Homo sapiens: one gene and its partners. The main gene of each other region encodes a partner of the protein of the gene in region 3 in a complex. Each region holds a gene or a part of one and is shown on either strand. Other genes may lie near its edges.

Region 1 (7,027 bases), 6.6 Mb from region 3:
TACCTATTTACCCATTTAAGGTCCATTTAAAGTATACAATTAAATGATTTTAGTATATTCATATAGTTCTGCAGCTATTACCATCCCCATGTCCACCCCACCCTAATCTGTTTTCTATCTCTATAGATTTGTGTATTCTAGACTTTTCATATAGATGGAATCATACGTGTTCTTTTATGACTGGCTGAACAATGCTAGTCTGCTTACTCTAATAAGATATAATCATCAGAAAGATTCAGAGATCCTTTTGTAGTTCATAAGCATGATGATTGGGTTTTCACATGCACACATGAGCTGTGCCTCTCTCCAACCTTGTTAGGAAGTGAGCACCATTACTCATCTGATGTTATCAGGGGCGGGGGGAGTTGGGGAGATGCTCCAGTTAGCATATTTGACAAAGTACCTTCGTCGTGGTGGTGGTGTGGGAGTCCTGCGCCGTCGAGGAGGAGGGGCGGGAGAAGGAGACCGTCGCCTTCTGGTGGGTGGTGGGGATGGACTTCTCCTCCGTCTACCACTAAACCAAGAAGAATTATAGTTAATTTTTTTTCTTTTTTTTGTGTGTGTGTGATGGCGTCTCACTCTGTCGCCCAGGCTGGAGTGCAATGGCATGATCTTGGCTCACTGCAACCTCCGCCTCCCAGGTTCAAGCAATTCTCCCCCCTCAGCCTCCTGAGTAGTTGGGATTACAGGCACCCATAATCATGCCTGGCTAATTTTTTAAAATATTTTTGTAGAGACGGAGTTTCACCATGTTGGCCAAGCTGGTCTTGAACTCCTGACCTCAGGTGATCTGCCTGCCTCAGCCTCCCAAAGTGCTGGGATTATAGGTGTGAGTTACCACGCCTGGCCTATATAGTTAACTTTGAGTCAGTGGCATTTATAGTTAAGTGACCCAGAAGACACGGTTTCAATTATCATTAACCCCAAGGGCAGCAATGGTTACTAAGTTTCAGAACAGTGTTTTTCAAACTACAGGTCAAGATCATCAGTCAAGACCCTGGGTGGCAGCATTAAAAAACTTAATAAAACCAGAGTGTTTTACTTGTGACAAGGGTAAGTACCGTTTTGTGAAATTTTTCTTTTACTCTGGATCACAATACCAAACATTCTTGACATGACACAGAGTGAAAAAGTTCGGCAACAGCACATAAGAGCACTGCTTTTTATTGGGGATGCACATTAGAACCACCTAGGAAGCTTATGTGAGATTTATGCCTACCAGGTCTGGGCTAAGGTCCAGCCAGGTGTTTTTGGGAAAGGCTCTCCAGGTGATTCTAATTCCTTATTAGGAATCAACTGCTTTAGAGACTCTAATACAGAAATTCAAAAATGCCAATAGTCACAAGTGGCTTAAGACCCAAGTCTGGACGTCTCTGCTCCAAGCTCTTAATTTTTTTTGCCCAGGACAGGACTCATGCTTCCTGTGAATCTGGAATTATGTTTTGTCTTGGTTCCCGTTAGAAACTAAGAAATCTCTGTTAACTGAACAGACAAAATCCTAAAAGTCACCACTAAATTTTTCAACTTAAATCTGCTTATGCTTTGTGGGGACTAAGACCTCACACTAAATACATATAAAATATTCAAAACCAGGCTCTATCTCCCCTTCTTTTCTTGAGACAGAGTCTCGCTCTGTTGCCCAGGCTGGAGTGCACTGGCACGATCTGGGCTTACTGCAAGCTCTGCCTCCTGGGTTCACACCATTCTCCTGCCTCAGCCTCCCAAGTAGCTGGGACTACAGGTGCCCGCCACCACACCCAGCTAATTTTTTGTATTTTTAGTAGAGACGGGGTTTCACCGTGTTAGCCAGGATGGTCTTTATCTCCTGACCTCGTGAACCACCCGCCTCGGCCTCCCAAAGTGCTGGGATTACAGGCGTGAGCCTCTTTTTTTTTTTTTGAGACGGAGTTTTGCTCTTGTTGCCCAGGCTGGAGTGCAATGGCACGATATCGGCTCACTGCAACCTCCACCTCCCGGATTCAAACGATTCTCCTGCCTGAGCCTCCCGAGTAGCTGGGACTACAGGCATGCGCCACCACGCCCGGCTAACTTTTTTGTATTTTTAGTAGAGATGGGGTTCCGTCGTGTTGGCCAGGCTGGTCTCAAACGTCTGATCTCAGGTGATCCACCCAACTCAGCCTCCCAAAGTGCTGAGATTACAGGCATGAGCCACCGCACCCGGCCTCTATCTCCCCTTCTAAAATACGATACTGAAGCATAATTCCAAATAATCCTTCCTCCATCTCTAAATCCTAGGAACCTGATGGCAATTTCTAATGGCATTAAACTTGAAGCTGCTGGTATATAACTTAAAATACTTTTTAAATGACGAGAAACAAAACAAAAACATCCTGGAGTAGAGCAATAAACATTAGTGTTGATTTTACTGCTGTGAGGAATCTCTTTCCAGAACAGAAAGTAGTGCCATAATTTGGTGGGGGGGTGGGGAGGGAAGGGGAGATGAAAGAGAAGAAATTGCACCACTAATCTAACTCTGTAAAGCAATTGTTTAGTTGCTGTGCTAGCAACTTCACAAAAGCCAGAGATAATTATAGCTGGGAAAGGAATGCTTTAGCAGCCAAACTAATCTTTTTTAGGTTTTTATCTTTTATTATCATGGAGCAGTTTCCTCCACAGTGTAAATACCCCGTGCTTTGCTCCATCACAAACACTGCTCACTGGTTCCTTTCCAAGAAAACACTCTTATTGATGAGATTACCTAAAACAACACAGCTTCAAAAACTGAGCTACAAAAAGGACAGTGGGATAGCTTCAGCAAGGATAAATACTTCAAAATTCAGTGGCAGCTAAGGCCCCAAAAGCAGAAAGCTGGTTAAGACAGACTAGTGTAATGCCAAATGTATAGGTCTAAGATCCAACTTTGTCACTTTGCGGCCCTAAGAAACTACCCCATCAGGGCCGCTATCTTCTCACTTATGAGAGTAAGGCCTGAATTAGGGATTTGGCTCTAAAATTTTACAGTTTTATGGTCACAGTGACACTAATAATCAAAAGTTTCAATAAAGATATGCAGGTCGGGCCCAGTGGCTCATGCCTGTAATCCCAACACTTTGGGAGGCCGAGGCGGGTGGATCACCTGACTTTAGGAGTTTGAGACCATCCTGGCCAACATGGCGAAATCCCTTCTCTACTAAAAATACAAAAATTAGCTGGGCATGGTGGCATGTGCCTGTAGTCCCAGCTACTCAGGAGGCTGAGGCAGGAGAATCGTTTGAACCTACAAAGCAGAAGTTGCAGTGAGCCGAGGTCGCACCAATGCACCCCAGCCTGGGTGATAGAGCCAGACTCCATCTCAACAAAAAAAAAAAAAAAAAAAAAAAGAGAGCTATGCAACCCACCTTTCTAGTACTGGAAAGACTGAACAGGGCCAAAGCCTTCCATTCGCTTTTATTTATTATTATTATTATTATTATTATTATTATTATTATTTTTGAGAGGGAATTTAGCTCTGTTGCCAGGCTGGAGTACAGTGGCGTGATCTCAGCTCATTGCAACCTCCGCCTCCTGGGTTCAAGCGATTCTCCTGCCTCAGCCTTCCGAGTAGCTGGGATTACAGGCACGCGCCAACACTCCCAGCTAATTTTTGTATTTTTAGTAGAAATGGGGTTTCACCATGTTGGCCAGGATGGTCTTGATCTCCTGACCTCGTGATCCTCTCACTTTTAATATTTCTAAAGTTTCTCCCTAGTTTTTCCTTGCCCTCCCTAATGTCACCACAAATACAAAGTCCCTCCCCCCAAATCTAAGGAGCAATAATCCTATCTCTGGAAAAGTATCCAGATACTGTTAAAAATCTGCGTGCTGCTTGATGTAAGTTGATGCAAATTATCACAAAAGAGCACAACCAGATATTAAAAATCTAAGTTCAAATAAGGGTCTAAACCAAATAGCTCATGTATAATTCTCCCTATCATTAATCTAATGTGTTAAAAAAAATACTCAAACCAAAACAACTTAGGATCTGCACATTCACAGCCACAGCCACCATATATTTAAGAATGAGATGAGGTCACCTAAATAGGAAATTAAGTCACTACAATTTTTGACATGTAACCCTAATTTACAAAGTAGTGTCTAACCAACCTTTTAGTCACTGGCGATTGCCATCGCTTTCCCATCTGCATCCTGAGAGCAGTGGAGAAAAACAAATGTCAAGAATTCCATTCACTAAATTATTTACTTGGGTGGATTAAGTACCATTAATGGAGACATTTTTAAATATTCAAAGATGTTCAGGAGTTACTGCTATAATAGTTTGGTTTATTTTTCTAATCATGCACACATATATGACATGGTGGTTTAAAATTTACCAATTCTAAATTAATTATTAATAACCACCAATAAAGCAAAAACAAAACAAAACAGAAACCCTAAAAAGCAAACAAAAATCCAACCACATCCAAATACTTGAAGGAGTTAACCAAATTCTCAAATAATCCCAAGTTATCAAATTTCATCACAATTACAGAACATCAGTGAACATCACTGAAGCAAAGATGTTACCGAGGGGAAGTCTCTTTTTGGCGCTTTCGTGGTGATGGAGAAGCACTCCGGGAAGGGGAATGTCTCCGCCGCCTGCCAACCTCACCATTCTTCACATGGGATCTCTTGGGTCGTTCATCTTCTGAGGAGGAGGAGGAGCCAGAGTCTATAATTACAAAATTAAAAAAATATTACATTAGGTTTGTGCTTGAATCTGTCCAAGTTTTCTGAAATCTAGGTGGATGGAGTGTTCACTAGGGTAAGCAAGCATGTATACAGGCCATCAGTTCTGAACAGAATCATTATCAATATATGATCAATGATTTCAAAGCCAAGCATATTATTTAAATAAGACATAGAAATAATTTCCACAGTGTAATCCAATCAAGATGGCATACTCTAAGAAGTTTGAGCTGGGCACGGTGGCTCACCCCTTTAACCCCAGCATTTGGGAGGCCAAGGCAGAAAGACCGCTTGTGCCTCCTGAGTAGCTGGGATTACAGGTCTGCACCATCATGCCTAACTAATCTTTGTATTTTTAGTTGAGACAAGGTTTTGCCATGTTGGCCAGGCTGGTCTCGAACTCCTGACCTCAAGTGATCCATCTACCTCAGCCTCCCAAAGTGTTGGGGTTACAGGTTAAGCCACCATACCCAGCCTGGTATATTCTTACAATAAAAAATGCAAATAGTAAAATAATAGGGTAGATTATTATTATTTTTTTTGTGGAAACAAAGCCTTGCTCTGTTGCCCAGGCTCCCAGGCTGGAGTGCAGTGGCGCGATCTCAGCTCACTCACTGCAACCTCTGCCTCCTGGGTTCAAGGGATTCTCCTGCCTGGGCCTCCCAAGTAACTGGGATTACAGGTGTGCGCCACTATGCCCGGTTAATTTTTGTATTTTTCGTAGAGATGGGGTTTCGCCCTATTGGCCAGGATGGTCTTGAACTCCTGATCTCGGCCTGCTCACCTCGGCCTCCCAAAGTGCTGGGACTACAGGTGTGAGCCACTGCGCCCAGTCTAGATTTTTAATAGGGAAAGATGTTCTAAATATACTGTTAAGTTAAAAAGTGAGGCAACATATCTACAGTTGAGCTTCTGTGGGGTTTTTTCTTTTCCTTTTTCTATATGCACAGAAAATTTCTGAATAAAAGCTTTAGGAGGTTGGAAAAAGAATGATACGTTTCCAATTTTATACTTCTGTTTTCTGTTTCACTATTGTATCCTAGGGACCTATTACTTTTATAACAATGTAACAGAAAATTAAATTTTGCAAAAGGACTTAAAACCAAAAAAAGAAACAATCCTGCCTCCTCAGACAGATTTCTATGTAGGCAAGTAAGTACTCATGCTGCACACACAGATGTTTATATACCAAGTATTTTTTAATAGGAAATACAGGTAGAAAAAAAACTTTCATCACCATCCATACCAGATGAAGACTGCTGGTTTTGTCGTCTGTATTGGCGTCTCTGCTGCACAGAATCTGCTGCAGCCATTTTGCCACCTTTATCTTCTTCTGAAAGATGGATGCATTTAGAAAGTGTTTCTTTAGTTAAGCATATAGAAAATTTGCAATTTGAATAGGAAAATAGTCTCTCAAACCTTCATTTGGTTGGATCAAAAATACAACTACTATATATTTTTTTTAAAAAGAGTTTAAAATGCCAATTCACAGGCTGATTTAGACTATCTTCACCAAATATAATAAAATTTATTTAGGCATTTACTACAGGTCAGGCTGGTGCCAAGCATTTTACAAGCAGATACAGTTAACTGTCAAAAACCTCTACTGTCCCTATTTCGGAGATGAAAGAAGAAAGGCTCAGATAAGTTAATTAAAACAGAAACAGTTAAATTCTGGAATGGGGGATTCCACCCAAGTCTGTCTGCCTTCAGAGTCTTAGCTCTTACCCTATACTTAATCTTCAAGCAGAAGGGGATGACCAAATGTGCAAAAAATCAAAATCAGCTTTAAGAAAAACAAAAACAAACAAACCAAAATCACAAAAAAAAACAACAAACTTACCCGATTCAGATAACTCTACTTTTCTAGGCTTCGGTGCTGGTGAAGGGGATTCTCTTTTCTCAGTACCTTTATGTTTTGTCACTAAAAAAGAATAAGAGTGGAAAAAAGCTTACGTACAAAAAAAGGTCTATACAAGATGCTTTTCTTTTAATTTTTAAAAATTTATTATTATTTTTAAATAAAGATGGGGTCTCACTATATTAGTCAGGCTAGTCTTGAACTCCTGACCTCAAGCAATCCTCCTGCCTGAGCCTCCCAAAGTGTTGGGATTACAGGCACAAGCCACTGTGCCCAGCCAAGATGCCTTCCTGCTATTACAAAAATGGGTGTGACTACTCTCAAAAAGAATTTATGAAGACTTAAAAAATTCCTGTAAGACCTTGTTGTCATATCTGAACATTATCTGAAGTGAGACAAGAATTTTTAAATGTTTAATGAAAAGCCTCAAAAAGTTCTACAATGATTTTCAAATCTTGAGATTCTCCCAAGAAAACCAAC
Region 2 (7,027 bases), on a different chromosome or scaffold from region 3:
AGCTGAAAACAGGATATATGAGAAGTACAAGAGGGGGCACTGTGGTTGGGCAGTGGTTCACATCTGTAATCCCAACACTTTGGGAGGTCGAGGTGGGAGGATCCCTTGAGGCCAGGAGTTAAAGAATGGCCTGGGCAACAAAGTGAGCACTCTCTCTACAAAAATACTTAGTTGGATGTGGTGGAGTGTGTCTAGTCCCAGCTACTTAGGATGCTGAGGTGAGAGGATCACTTGAGCCCAGGAGTTTGAGGCTGCAGTGAGCCATGATCACGCCACCATGATCACCCAGACTAGGTGATAAAGCTAGACCCTGTCTCAAAAAATAATAAAAAGGGGCACTATAAGTTAAGAGTTGGGGGTGACCAGTGAGAAATACCAACGAGTCTGGGAGGCTCAATAAAGTCAATATAATTTATAATAAATACGTCACATACATGTGGTGATTCTTACATATAAAATGAAAATGGGCCAGGTGTGGTGGCCCACGCCTGTAATCCCAGCACTTTGGGAGGCGAGGCAGGCTGATCACTTGAGGTCAAGAGTTCGAGACCAACCTGGCCAACATGCTGTCTCTACTAAAAATATAAAAAATTAGCCAGTCATGGTGGCGGATGTCTGTAATCCCAGCTACTAGGAAGGCTGAGGCAGGAGAATCGCTTGAAACTGGGAGGTAGAGATTGCAGTCAGCCGAAATCACGCCACTGCACTCCAGCCTGGGCGACAAGAGCAAAACTCTGTCTTGAAAAAAAAAAAAAAAAGAAAATGAAAAAGTCGAGAGAGCGAGGGTAAGTATAGGCAGGGCAGGTGTGTTAATGGGCTACCTTCTCAGTGATGCCATTGAACTTAGCCAGGATGTTGAAGAGTGGCACTTGGGGAATGATGAGCTGCTCCTTCTCGTCCTTGTAGAGGGGGGCAGTAGGAAGGTCCAGCGTCAGGTACATAAAAGTGGACTCCACCATTGTCTCCTGGTACTCGTCATTATGGAGCAACTGCTCTTTTTCTTCTGCTGGCTAGAAATGAATGAGAAGAAAAGAGAGGAAAGGAGTGTGACGGGTATAGGAACCAACACAGAACCGATGTTTTACCACGCCGACATTTCCTTCATCTGAAAGAACAAAGAGAAGTGCCCGAGAGATTGGGCAGTTTGGCATGCACCACCTGGTTAGATTAACTTAAGAACCAACAGGTTTCCTTCTTTAAAGATATTTTGCTTATATACCAGACTATCTAAAAAGCCCTGAGGCCAAGTGTGATGGCTCACGGCTGTAATCTCAACACTTTGGGAACAAAGGTGAGAGGACTGCTTGAGTCCAGGACTTCCAGACCAGCCTGGGCAACACAGTGAGACTCCATCTCTACAAAAAAAAAAAAAAATTGGCCGGGCATGATGGCTCACACCTGTAATCCCAGCACTTTGGGAGGCCGAGGCAGGTAGATCACCTGAGGTCAGGAGTCCAAGACCAACGTGACCAACACGGAGAAACCCCGTCTCTACTAAAAATACAAAATAAGCCGGGCGTGGTGGTGGCGCCTGTAATCCTAGCTACTCGGGAGGCTGAGGCAGGAGAATCACCTGAACTCGGGAGGCGGAGGTTGCGGTGAGCCGAGATAGTGCCATTGCACTCCAGCCTGGGCAACAAGAGTGAAACTCCGTCTCAATAAAATAAATAAATTAATTAATTAATTAAATTAAACAAAAATAAAAATAAAAATTAGCCCGGTGTGGTGGTGTGTATCTATGGTCCCAGTTTCTGGGGAGGTTGAGGTGGGAGGATCACTTCAGCAAGGGAGGTTGAGGTTGCAGTGAACCATAATCACGCCACCACACTCAGCCTGAGTGACAGAGATCTTGTCTCAAAAAGGAAAAAAAATCCATTAAAAAAAGAAAGTGGGCCGAGCACGGTGGCTCATGTCTGTAATCCCAGCACTTTGGGAGGCCAAGGGAGGTGGATCACCTAAGGTCAGGAGTTTGAGACCATCCTGACCAACATGGTAAAACCTCTTCTCTACTAAAAATAGAAAAATTAGCCAGGCATAGTGGCGCATGCCTGTAATCCCAGCTACTTCGGAGGCTGAGGCAGGAGAATGGTTTGAACCTGGGAGGTGGAGGTTGCAGTGAGCTGAGATCATGCCATTGCACTCCAGACTGGTCAACAAGAGCAAAACTCCATCTCAAAAAAGAAAAGCTCTAAGACCATCTAGGAAGCTTAGCTGAGGGCCAGGCACGGTGACTCACGCCTGTAATCCCAGCACTTTGGGAGGCCGAGGCAGGTAGATCACCTGAGGTCAGGAGTTCGAGACCAGCCTGGACCAACATGGTGAAGCCCCGTCACAACTAAAAATACAAAATTAGCTGGGCGTGGTGGCAAGCGCCTGTAATCACAGCCACTCAGGAGGCTAAGGCAGGAGAATCGCTTGAACCCAGGAGGTAGAGGTTGCAGTGAGCTGAGATGGCGCCACTGCAACTCCAGCCTTGGCGACAGAGGGAGACTAAGAAAAACAAAAAGAAAGCTTAGCTGAGCTTTCTGAAAAAACACAGCAGCACCACCTAGTGGCCAGAACACTTAAACCAGCACAGTACATCCAACCACTAACTCCCAAACTGAAAAAGTGCACTAGTATGACAGGGACCAGGCAGAGCTGCCACTAGGCAGGTGCTTTGTTGAACCTCTTCACAGGGCAAGCAGGCTTGTCAGTTCTCTGAGCATCTCTTCATCTCCCCTACGTCCCCTCAAGCAATATGAATCAGTCCAAGACCCAGGCTCAATTAACTCACCAGATCAGGATGGGGAAGCTTTTTAGTGAAGATCCTCATGGACCCCTGGAAAACATCAGTCACAATAGCTGCACAAACAGGAAGCAAGAGACAAATTCCGTGAGGATGGAAAACATGTCTGAAGTATATTTCCAGCTTCTAAATTTCTGAAATAAACCAGCATCTTCCAGCAAAAGACACAGAGCTCTCACTAAACACAGAAGTTTCCTTTTGTACTATATACCACCAGGGTACCTTTATAATTATTTGTGTAAATAATTACTTTATTTCTCTTAAGACAACTTTTTATCCTCCATCACAGGGCCTGGTCCATAAAAGAAAAGGTAAATGTGTTCAAAATGAAGGAATGGTGATACATGAATTACAAAAAAATTCACAAGCAAAACAAGGTACAGCCAAGGAACTTCCCATAACCATAAGCTACTTTCAAAGGGAGACAATGTCCAAACTGTAATGAAGACAAGAGGACAATGACAGACTAAGAGATGGGCCAGAACAGGATCAAAGCAACAAGAGAGAAAGCACAACCAAGTTCTAGAACCCTGCCAAGACGCAAGTTAGAGAGCTCAGAGGGTTAACACAGGCTGAAGACACCTGGTAGAGAGGGCAGGGCCATCCAGTGGGAAAAGCAACAGGCCACAATCCCACATCAAGACACCATCACATCTATAATCCTAGCACTTTGGGCAGATCACCTGAGGTCAGGAGTTTGAGACCAGCCTGGCCAACATGGAGAAATCCCATCTCTACTAAAAATACAAAAATCAGCTGGGCGTGGTAGTGGGTGCCTGTAATCCCAGCTACCCTTGGGAGACTGAGGGAGAAGAACTGCTTGAACCTGGGAGATGGAGGCTACAGTGAGCTGAGACCGTGCCACTGCATAGCCTAGGTGACAGAGCAAGACTCTGTCTCAAAATATATATATAATAAAATATCATTGGGACTATAACCATATTCTAGCAAAAACTATGGAGAGGGGCCTATTCAGAAAGAACATGTAGTTTATCTATAACATAGATACTAGCCTACCCCAGATAAACAGTTAACAAAAGAATGGGAAGTTGCCTCAGCCTCCCAAGTCGCTGGGACTACAGGCACATCCCACCACACCTGAATAACTTTTGTATTTTTGGTAGAGATGGGGTTTCGCCATGTTGGCCAGGCCGGTCTCAAACTCCTGACCTCAGGTAATCCACCCACCTCGGCCTCTCAAAGAGCTGGGATTATAGGCATGAGCCATTGCGACCGACCGCAAAGTTTTTTAAAAGGGAACAAAATAACTCCTTTTTATAAGTAAATGACTTACTCTTCTTTTTCTTCTTTGTGCCCCCCAGAGCTGAGTGCAGAGCATTCAGAAACCAAGACAGAAAGTCAACGCCATCTCCTGGAAAAAAAGGAAGGGTGGAAAACGTTGAAGCTAAGTGGCATTAGAGTTAACTTAAACCATGCACTGGTTGGCATTCCTGGTTCTCCCCCTTCCTCTCTGGCCATGCCATCCCATCCCAACTGCCGTGCATCCTCCTCTATCTTATCATTAAATGCTGGCACTCCTCAAGGTCAAGCTCTCACTCCTCCGATCTTGACTCTCTCCATAGGCTCTCTGATTCATACCAGGACTGTATCGCATCACTCAGTGATGACCAAAACAAATGAATATGACCTTTTAACATCCACTTTTCTCCAGAGTGAGCTCAAACTTCCTTCTTCCCTTCTGCAGCTCATGAAGATTCCTGTCTTTTAGGAAAGTGACTAGCACCCAGACTGAAAAGGCATACAGAACAAGGGGTTCTGAAAGCAGATTGACAATATTCCATGAAAATGCTGTCTACGGAACCTGCCACTCAGACATTTCAGGGATAGTGGCTACTTTTTTTTTTGAGACAGAGTCTCACTCTGTCGCCCAGGCTGGAGTGCAGTGGCATGATCTCAGCTCACTGCAACCTCCGCCTCCTGGGTTCAAGCGATTCTCCCACCTCAGTCTCCTGAGTAGCTGGGATTACAGGTGCCTGCTACCATGCCCAGCTAATTTTTGTATTTTTAGTAGAGACGGGGCTTCACCATGTTGGCCAGGCCGGTCTCGAACTCTTGACCTCAAGTGATCCTCCCGCCTCAGCCTCCCAAAGTACTGGGATTACAGGCATGAGCCACTGCGCCCAGCCAGATAATGACTACTTTCTCTTCAACGAAGATTTGCTTCTATTTAGTTCCTCTTTGCTCACGCAATTAAAATCTCAAAGACTATAGTATATCTTCCTCAACTTCATTTCCCTAAACCCAGAGGCCTCTAACAACTCCATAGAATGATTTTCTTTTTATTCCCTGTACACAGAATGCTCTTATGTAACAAACTACCACAGCAAGAAACACTTCACACATCTAAACACTCGGCAACTAATAACCTACTAGGTCTCAGAGATGGAGGAAATTATGTTTATGTGACATCATAACTATCCTAGCCAATAGTGGCTATGACAGAAGAAACTAGACACGTTGATTCTCAGGGTACCCTGGTTTTTCTGCAACTCTACAACCCAATTATGCCCTAACTTTCCAAGCTGCCAAAAGCTGACAGGCCCCACTATCCACCTTCAGGCCATAAGTCACCTGTGGAACACAGTGAATGCTGACACTCATCCATCCATTCATGGTCCACAAAAAAATCATTCTCAACACAAATTTCTTCCTTTCTTGCAGCCTTAATATAAAACCCTGGGAGCTCAGGGAGTTGGTCCAGAAACAGAAATGTCTCTATAAACACAAGATAACCTAGCCACCTAGTTCTTGGGAATTAGATGGTCCTACAAAGCACACAAACAGGCTGTCACCTGTTTAGAAGGGTGAGGCACCCAGATTTTTTCTTCGCGACACAGCGTCTCACTCTGTCACCCAGGCTGGAGTGCAGTGATGCAACTTCAGCTCACTGCAAGCTCTGCCTCCCAGGCCCAAGGAATCCTTCCACCTCAGTTTCCCAAGTAGCTGGGACTACAGGCGTGTGCCATCATGCCCGGCTAACTTTTACATTTTTTGTCGAGAGGGAGTCTCACTATGTTCCTCAAGCTGGTCTTGAACTCTTGGGCTCAAGCAATCCTCCCACTTCGGCCTCCCAAAGTGCTGGGATTACAGGCATGAGCCAGCGCGCCTGGCCCCAGATTAAGATTTCATTGGCCATGTTGTAACCAACCCGAAGTGTATCTTATTTCCTACTAACCCTGAAACAAGTGCTCCATGGGCCCCATTCCTTACCACCTTGATTCCTCCTATTTCTCCTTAAGTACCAGAGACTCTTAAAAGCCACTACTCGGCCGGGCGTGGTGGCTCACGCCTGTAATCCCAGCACTTTGGGAGGCCGAGGCGGACGGATCACGAGGTCAGGAGATCGAGACCATCCCGGCTAAAACGGTGAAACCCCGTCTCTACTAAAAATACAAAAAATTAGCCGGGCGTAGTGGCGGGCGCCTGTAGTCCCAGCTACTTGGGAGGCTGAGGCAGGAGAATGGCGTGAACCCGGGAGGCGGAGCTTGCAGTGAGCCGAGATCCCGCCACTGCACTCCAGCCTGGGCAACAGAGCGAGACTCTGTCTCAAAAAAAAAAAAAAAAAAAAAAAAGCCACTACTCGACGTCCCCTCTAAGTCAATCCTCAGCCAGAATAATGTTTTTCTTTTTATTTTACAGACAGAGGTCTCACTCTGTTGTCCAGGCTGGAGTACAGTGGGACCAACATGGCTCACTGAAGCCTCTACCTCCTAGGCCCAAGCGATCCTCCAACCTCAGCCTCTCAAGTAGCTGGACTACAGGTACATGCCACCATGCCTGGGTAATTTTTAAAAATTTTTTGTAGATATAGGGTCTATGTCACGCAGGATGGTCTCTAACTCCTGGGCTCAAGCAATCCACCCACCTTGATCTCCCAAAGTGGTGGGATTACAGGTTTGAGTGACCATGCCCAGCTGGAATAATGTTTTAAAAACAAATTCATAAGTCTGATGTCACATCTTTGTTAAAAGCCTTCAATGAGGCCGGGCATGGTGGTTCACACCTGTAATCCCAGCACTTTGGGAGGCCGAGGCGGGTGGATCACCTGAGGTGAGGAGTTCGATACCAGCCTGACCAACGTGGTGAAACTCCGTCTCTACTAAAAATACCAAAAAATTAGCCAGGTATGGTGGTGGGTGCCTGTAGTCCCAGCTACTCGGGAGGCTGAGGCGGCAGAATAGCTTGAACTGGGGAGACAGAGGTTGCAGTGAGCCGAGA
Region 3 (7,027 bases):
GCCCTGCCCAGTGTGGATGCTCTCCTTACCACACTTGTGCTCTGACACTCTACTCTGGGCCACCTTGGCCCATCTCTAACTAGAGCACCTTCCCTGCTTTGGCCTATATAACTGGCTTTAGGACTGAACTGCTCATGAAAGGGAAATTTATATATATATGAGTACATACACACATACACGCAGTATTTCACTTAATTTTATTAGAAGAATGCACTTGATAAAAAGTTTGAAAACGATCTGTATGAATAATGCCCAGAATGCTTTTAGACTAAAAATGCAAGTGCTGTTGGAAACCTTTGCTTTCTGTTAAGAACTCTGACATGTAAAAAGCAACATGACTTTTTTTCCTCTTAAACTGAAGTTATTCAATTCCTGTACTTGCAACCTAGTAACAAAAATACAAGAACACAAAGCATTCCAACTTCACAAGTAACTGAAAAGTACATTGCAAAAAGCTGTTTAATGATGCCTTAAATATAAATATACTGACATTAAAAATAGGAGCTGGTTAAAAAGCAGTCATCTTTAGGTGATGTGACATACTGCTTATTAAAAAAAGTATTAACTTGAGTAATAAGGTAAAAATAACTATTCCAAATCATGTTTAATTAAGGCAGAAGAGAAGCAAAAAACCAAAAGAAGGCAGACAGAAAGGACATATACTCTTTTTCTACTACCTAAATAGTTCCTAGATATTTATTACAGCAGGCCCTCAATAATAATGTTAACAAAATTCACTGGGGCATTTCCACCTCTTACTATCTTCTGAAATGACAATTAGTAAATCAGCTACTGTTAAGACTCTCCAACTACAGTGACATCTAGGTCAGAGCTCTGGTTTAGAAACCAATCTTAAACAACAGACTCTCCTCCCATCCAACCATCAAGGGGCCCCAAGTGATTAGGTATAAGAAAACCACTCAGTAGAAAAACGTCTCAGCCAAGTGTGGTGGCTCACGCCTGTAATCCCAGCACTTTGGGAGGCCGAGGGGGGCGGATCACAAGGTCAGGAGTTTGAGACCAGCCTGGCCAATATGATGAACCCCTGCCTCTACTGAAAATACAAAAACTAGCTGGGCGTGGTATGGGTCCCTGTAGTCCCAGCTACTAGGGAGGCTGAGGCAGGGGAACTGCTTGAACCCAGGAGGTAGAGGTTGCAGTGAGCTGAGATTGCGCCACTGCACTCCAGCCTGGGCAACATGGTGAAACCCCATCTCTACCAAAAATAGAAAAATTAGGCAGGTATGGTGGTGTGCACCTGTAATCCCAGCTACTCAAGAGGCTGAGGCTGGGGAATCACTTGAACCCGGGAGGTGGAGGCTACAGTGAGCCAAGATTGTGCCACTGCACTCCAGCCTGGGCGATAGAGCAAGACCCTGTCTCAAAGAAAAAAAAAAAAAAGCAAATTCATTAATTCATTTAAAAAGCAATAAGAAGTATGGGGGTGTAGTTTCCCAGATGTACTCTTTTGAAGTCCCTCACTGTTTAACAATTAAAATATAAACCAGAGCCCAAAATTCGTGTCAAAGAGAGAATCAAATGGTTGGTACTATGATGTACTGTGTCCTTGTGTGCCTCTGAGATAAATTATTATTTCTAGGCCTCAGTTTCCTTATTTATAAAATGAGGATGCTCAGTGAGATCAGTGGCTCCCAGAATGTGAGACTGGCTACACTGAATCACTTGAAGGACACATTAAAATATCTGATTCCCATTGCAGATCCACTGAACCAGATTCTTTGGGTATTTTTAACAGGTTCTTCAGGTGATGATGATATAAAGATAGGCTGGCAACCATCTGACTAAACGATGTTTAAGTTCCCATCTTGTGCCATACTAAAACTATTCACTGAACTTTTTATATATTGTCTATAATCTCAGAACAGCCTTTTTTTTTTTTTTGCTACCTCCCTGTTGGTGGAGATACTCATAACAGCCTTGAAAGACACGTATATTACTGTCACAGTTCTTTTTTTTGAGACAGAGTCTCGCTCTGTCGCCCAGGCTGGAGTGCAGTGGTGCAATCTCTGCAAGCTCCACCTCCCGGGTGCACACCATTCTCCTGCCTCAGCCTCCCAAGCAACTGGAACTACAGGTGCCCGCCATCACGCCCGGCTTATTTTTTGTATTTTTAGTAGAGACGGGGTTTCACCGTGTTAGCCAGGATGGTCTTGATCTCTTGACCTCGTGATCCACCCGCCTCGGCCTCCCAAAGTGCTGGGATTACAGGCGTAAGCCACAGCACCCGGCCTATTTCAAGTAACAATTTATTCTATGGTTCTATTATTATTCTGTAGGGTAATTAAAACTTGTATTAAATGTTTTATTTTAAATGGGGAAAAATTTCAAGTGTGTTATGGGAGATGACTGCTAAAATTAAGTTTTGCACAGGAAGCTAGAGTACAAGTGGCAAGGCAAGATAAGGTTCACATCACATCACCTCAGAAACTGGAACACGGAGAGACAATACCCACCTTAACTGTGCCATCGTCACTGCCAGTGCAGACAAGCTGAGGGCCTCTCCTGGCTGGATAACAGGAATTCACAAAGGAAGTATGTCCCTTTAGCCTTTTAACCCTCTCACCTGTTTCACTATCCCACACAGCCACGGTTTTATCTGTGGATGCTGAGAAAAGCATACTAGAAAGTAAGAGAAAGAATAAAAAAGAAATAAGTGAAGATAAACAGTAACAATCTATCTTTCCTACTTGACAAAAGGTGCCAAATTTTTCAAGATCACTGACCTGCTGTGCTACGCCAGTTTGCCCATGATGCTGGAATGCCTCACCCTACCAAAATCCTATTTGTCCTCTAGGCCCAGATGGCCCAGATAAAAGATCTACCCCTGTGAAGTTTAAAAAATTCCCCTTCTTTGAGTCCCCATGACATACATCTAATGTAGCAGTTTGCTCTATCTTTTCCTCTTTTGTGATAGCTAACATTTTAAACATAAGACACCCTCTCACTTGGAAATGTTTAATAACTCCCTGGTGCTGCAGAGATCAGACAGACTGTGGTACCGACCTGACAGCTGAGTGACTCCAATCTTTTCTCTTTACCAAAGTTTTTCTTTTGTCTCTGAGGACAATTTCTTTCTTTCATTTTTTTTTTGAGATGAGATCTTGCTCTGTCACCCGGGTTGGAATCATGGCTCACTGCAGCCTCGACCTCCTGGGCTCAAGTGATCCTCCCACCTCAGCCTCCTGAGTAGCTGGGACCACAGGTCTGTGCCACCATGCTCAGTTAATTTTTAAAAATCATTTGTAGAGGCAAGGTCTCACTATGTTGCCCAGGCTGGTCTTGAACTGGGCTCAAGCAATCTTCCTGCCTCAGCCTCCTACAGTGCTAGGGTTATAGGCGTAAGCAACCACGCCCAGCCTCTGAGGATGATTTCTAAGTTATAACTGATCTTATAATGCTTTCTTTTTTCATTTTTTTTGAGATGGAGTCTCACTGTGTTGCCCAGGCTGGTTTTGAACTCTTGGGCTCCAGGAATCCTCCTGCCTCAGCCTCCCAAATAGCTGGGATTATAAGCACATGCCACCAGGCCCAGCTTTCTAATGCTTTATTTAAAATGTATACAATGCTATGTATCAATTGATGGAGCACCCTAAGATTTTAGAGGTCAGAAATGTAAAACAATGAATGTTTACCAGACTACCTAACAATGTAATTACTTTTGTATAGCCAGATTTCTATATTATCTATAATATATTCTAAAATAATATAGTCATTAAAATGACGTTTATGACATCAGATGTTGGCTGAGCAATGTTAAGAGAAAAAAGGAGCAAATAAGATTGTACACACAGTTCTGGCCAGGTGCGGTGGCTCACACTTGTAATCCCAGCATTTTGGGAGGCCAAGGCGGGCGGATCACAAGGTCAGGAGATCGAGACCATCCTGGCTAACACGGTGAAACCCCATCTCTATTAAAAATACAAAAAAATTAGCCGGGCATGGTGGCGGGCACCTGTAATCCCAGCTACTCAGGAGGCTGAGGCAGGAGAATGGTGTGAACCCCGGAGACGGAGCTTGCAGTGAGCCGAGATCGCACCACTGCACTCCAGACTGGGCGACAGAGCAAGACTCCGTCTCAAAAAAATAAAATAAAATAAATAAATAAATAAAAAAGATTGTACACATAGTTCTAACAAATATGCAACAACTAAACAGTTCTGAGTAGAAAAAAAGGCATTAGAAAAATGTATAAAATTAACAGTGATTGGCCAGGCACGGTGGCTCATGCCTGTAATCCCAGCACTTTGGGAGGCTGAGGTGGGCGGATCACCTGCGGTTGGGAGTTCAAGACCAGCCTGACCAACATGGAGAAACCCAGTCTCTACAAAAAATACAAAATTAGCCAGGCACGGTGATGCATCCCTGTAATCCCAGCTATTCTGGAGGCTGAGGCAAGAGAAACACGTGAACCTGGGAGGCGGAGGTTGCAGTGAGCCGAGATCGTGCCATTGCACTCCAGCCTGGGCAACAAGAGTGAAATTCCGTCTCAAAAAAAAAAAATTAACACTGATTATCTTTGGAGTGGTAGAAATATAGACTATTTTTTCATCTTTCTGCTTTTTTTGGTTTCTCAAAAGAAATGATTTTTATAATAGAAATAGCTGATTTCAGGCCAGGCATGGTGGTTAATTATTGTAATCACAGCATTTTTGGGAGGCTGAGGCAGGTGGACTGCTTGAGCTCAGGAGCAATATAGCAAGACCATGTCTCCACAAATGATTTTTAAAAATTAGCTGGGCATGGAGGCGTGGGCTTGTGGCCCCAGCTATTTGGGAGGCTGAAGTGGGAGGATCCCTCGAGCAAGAGGTTGAGGCTGCAGTGAGCCATGTTTGTGTCACTGCACTCCAGCCTACATATAAAAATCACATTTATTTTATGTCTTAAAAAAAGAAAAATTTGTCTGGGTTGTTGAAATGACCGATGTAACATCTTTATATTTGCATACACAGACTATAAACACCTCACTTGGGGTGACAGTGATAAATCGGATACTAAAGTAGCTACCCAAAATTAGTAGTTTTTGATAGCAGGGTCTCCTGAGAAAGGATGAAAGGTGAAAGGACGCCAAGAATTAGTATGAGAAGCTGTCCTTCCATTATGCAGAATACTCACCTGCCATCTGTGTTGTAATGCAATTCCATCACTGCTCCACTGTGTCCCTTCAGTGTGGCATAGTTATCACAGTCACCATAGACATTCCACAGTACTGTTAGGGAGATGGGTTCTGTGAGCATTACTAGGCAAAGGGTACTTATAAATTTATCAGAACAACAGTTCTCAGGTCAGGCACGGTGGCTCACACCTGTAATCCCAGCACTTTGGGAGGCCGAGACGGGTGGATCACTTGAGGTCAGGAGTTCGAGACCAGCGTGGCTGATACGGCGAAACCCCATCTTTAATAAAAATAAAAAAATCAGCCAGGTGTAGTGGCAGACGCCTACAATCCCAGCTCTTGGGAGACTGAGGCAGGAGAATCACTTGAACCCAGGAGACGGAGGATGCAGTGAGCCGAGATCGCGCCACGGCACTCCAACCTGGGTGACAGAGTGAGACTCCGTCTCTAAAAAGCCAACCGACCAACCAAACAAAAAAAACTATGTAGTTTGTCTGATGAAATTAAGCCTATCAATAATTCATATATGTTCTGCAAAGATCCCTAAGCAATCCAGACGTTTGGCCACTAGTAAGCTTAAGGATCATAGAGCCGGAACATCCAAATCAAAATGGGCAGTGAAGACGGGTATCATCCACCCGGCACCGAGGAAAAGAGTTAACAGAAAAGAGCCAAATAACTCATTTCATCTCATAATCTGGCAAGAAAGTAGCAACAGAAGCATCTGATTTTTTTTCCTTCTGGCTTCATTTGCTGGAGTATAAATAAAACGACTTTTTCTACTTACTTCTCAAAAATGGGTATGAGAAATTCTTATTTCTCAAAAATGGAAATCTGGTAGTAGATCCTAATGATGTACAGGTAGATTATTTAAGGGAGTTACCACTTTAGGATTCCTTCCTTCCCATATGCTAGCTAGGATTCTGGGTGTGAATTAAGAGGACCTTATACCTTTGGGAAAATAAAAGTTATTTCTCTCCTCATTACTGCCATTAACCTGTTATGTCTAGATTGCTAAGTGCCTTGGTAAATTAGCTGGAGATTTGCCTCTATGAGGAAGACATTCTCAAACCAGAACAACTCACTTTCCAACTAGTAAAATAATGGCTTCTGTATTTACCCCATGGACTCCAAGTTCTACACCCAAGATCATTCAGCATGTTCATGCCCCAATTTTAGCATATTAGCCATGCAGCCTGTTATGTTGCCAACATAGAGTGATACCTTCTGTGGCACCCAAGATTTAAAAAAAAAAATCACTATCTGGCAGGAAAAATTATTCCAGATTCAAAAACTATGCCTCACATATCAGTCGGTCAAATCCTGCAGATGCTAAGGTGGATCCGTTGGGGTGGAACTTGCAGCAGTAGACTTCCCCTTCATGTCCAGAGAGCAGCATGATTGGGGCTTGAAGGGAGGAACATCTTGGAGGTCCCTAAACAAAAGAGAAGCACAAGGTAACTACTGCATACAGACAAAGGAGGCTACAAAATTAGGGGGTGGGGAGTGGAGGGAAAAGACCAAGAAAACAATGATTAAGTGGGTTTCATCTGACTTACAGAATGGTAGCTCTTCTCATATGAATGCCTCCAACTTGACACTCTCTGAAACTTTCCATTATCTACCTGTTATAATGACTCTCTTGTTCACTCTCTCAGCTCTTGTTGTACGACCAACTTTTTTTTGGAGATAGGGTCTCACTCTGTCACCTAGGCTGGACTGCAGTAGTGTGATCATGGTTCACTGCAGCTTCAAACTCCTTGGCTCAAGTGATCCTCCTGCCTCAGCCTCCTGAGTAGCCAGGACTACAGGCATGAACTAGCATGCCATGCTAATTTTTTTAGTTTTTGTGGAGATGAGGTCTTGCTACGTTGCCTAGGCTGGTCTCAAAAT

The links. The genes of interacting proteins can lie anywhere in the genome.
Region 1: SNRNP40 (region 3) and SRRM1 share a complex: the UniProt entries of both Homo sapiens proteins name them as parts of the minor spliceosome.
Region 2: SNRNP40 (region 3) and USP39 share a complex: the UniProt entries of both Homo sapiens proteins name them as parts of the U4/U6-U5 tri-snRNP complex.

What each region holds. Positions count from the first base shown.
Region 1 is NC_000001.11:24,660,302-24,667,328, reverse strand, and holds part of SRRM1 (serine/arginine repetitive matrix protein 1), read right to left. Parts: intron 6,611-7,027; coding exon 6,530-6,610; intron 6,020-6,529; coding exon 5,933-6,019; intron 4,670-5,932; coding exon 4,525-4,669; intron 4,147-4,524; coding exon of another isoform or gene 4,105-4,146; intron 515-4,104; coding exon 404-514; intron 347-403; exon of another isoform or gene 242-346; intron 1-241. UniProt on the Homo sapiens protein: Part of pre- and post-splicing multiprotein mRNP complexes. As a component of the minor spliceosome, involved in the splicing of U12-type introns in pre-mRNAs. Involved in numerous pre-mRNA processing events.
Region 2 is NC_000002.12:85,633,186-85,640,212, reverse strand, and holds part of USP39 (ubiquitin carboxyl-terminal hydrolase 39), read right to left. Parts: intron 4,161-7,027; coding exon 4,083-4,160; intron 2,845-4,082; coding exon 2,777-2,844; intron 1,011-2,776; coding exon 822-1,010; intron 1-821.
Region 3 is NC_000001.11:31,286,780-31,293,806, forward strand, and holds part of SNRNP40 (U5 small nuclear ribonucleoprotein 40 kDa protein), read right to left. Parts: intron 6,570-7,027; coding exon 6,440-6,569; intron 5,228-6,439; coding exon 5,134-5,227; intron 2,641-5,133; coding exon 2,475-2,640; intron 1-2,474. UniProt on the Homo sapiens protein: Required for pre-mRNA splicing as component of the activated spliceosome. Component of the U5 small nuclear ribonucleoprotein (snRNP) complex and the U4/U6-U5 tri-snRNP complex, building blocks of the spliceosome.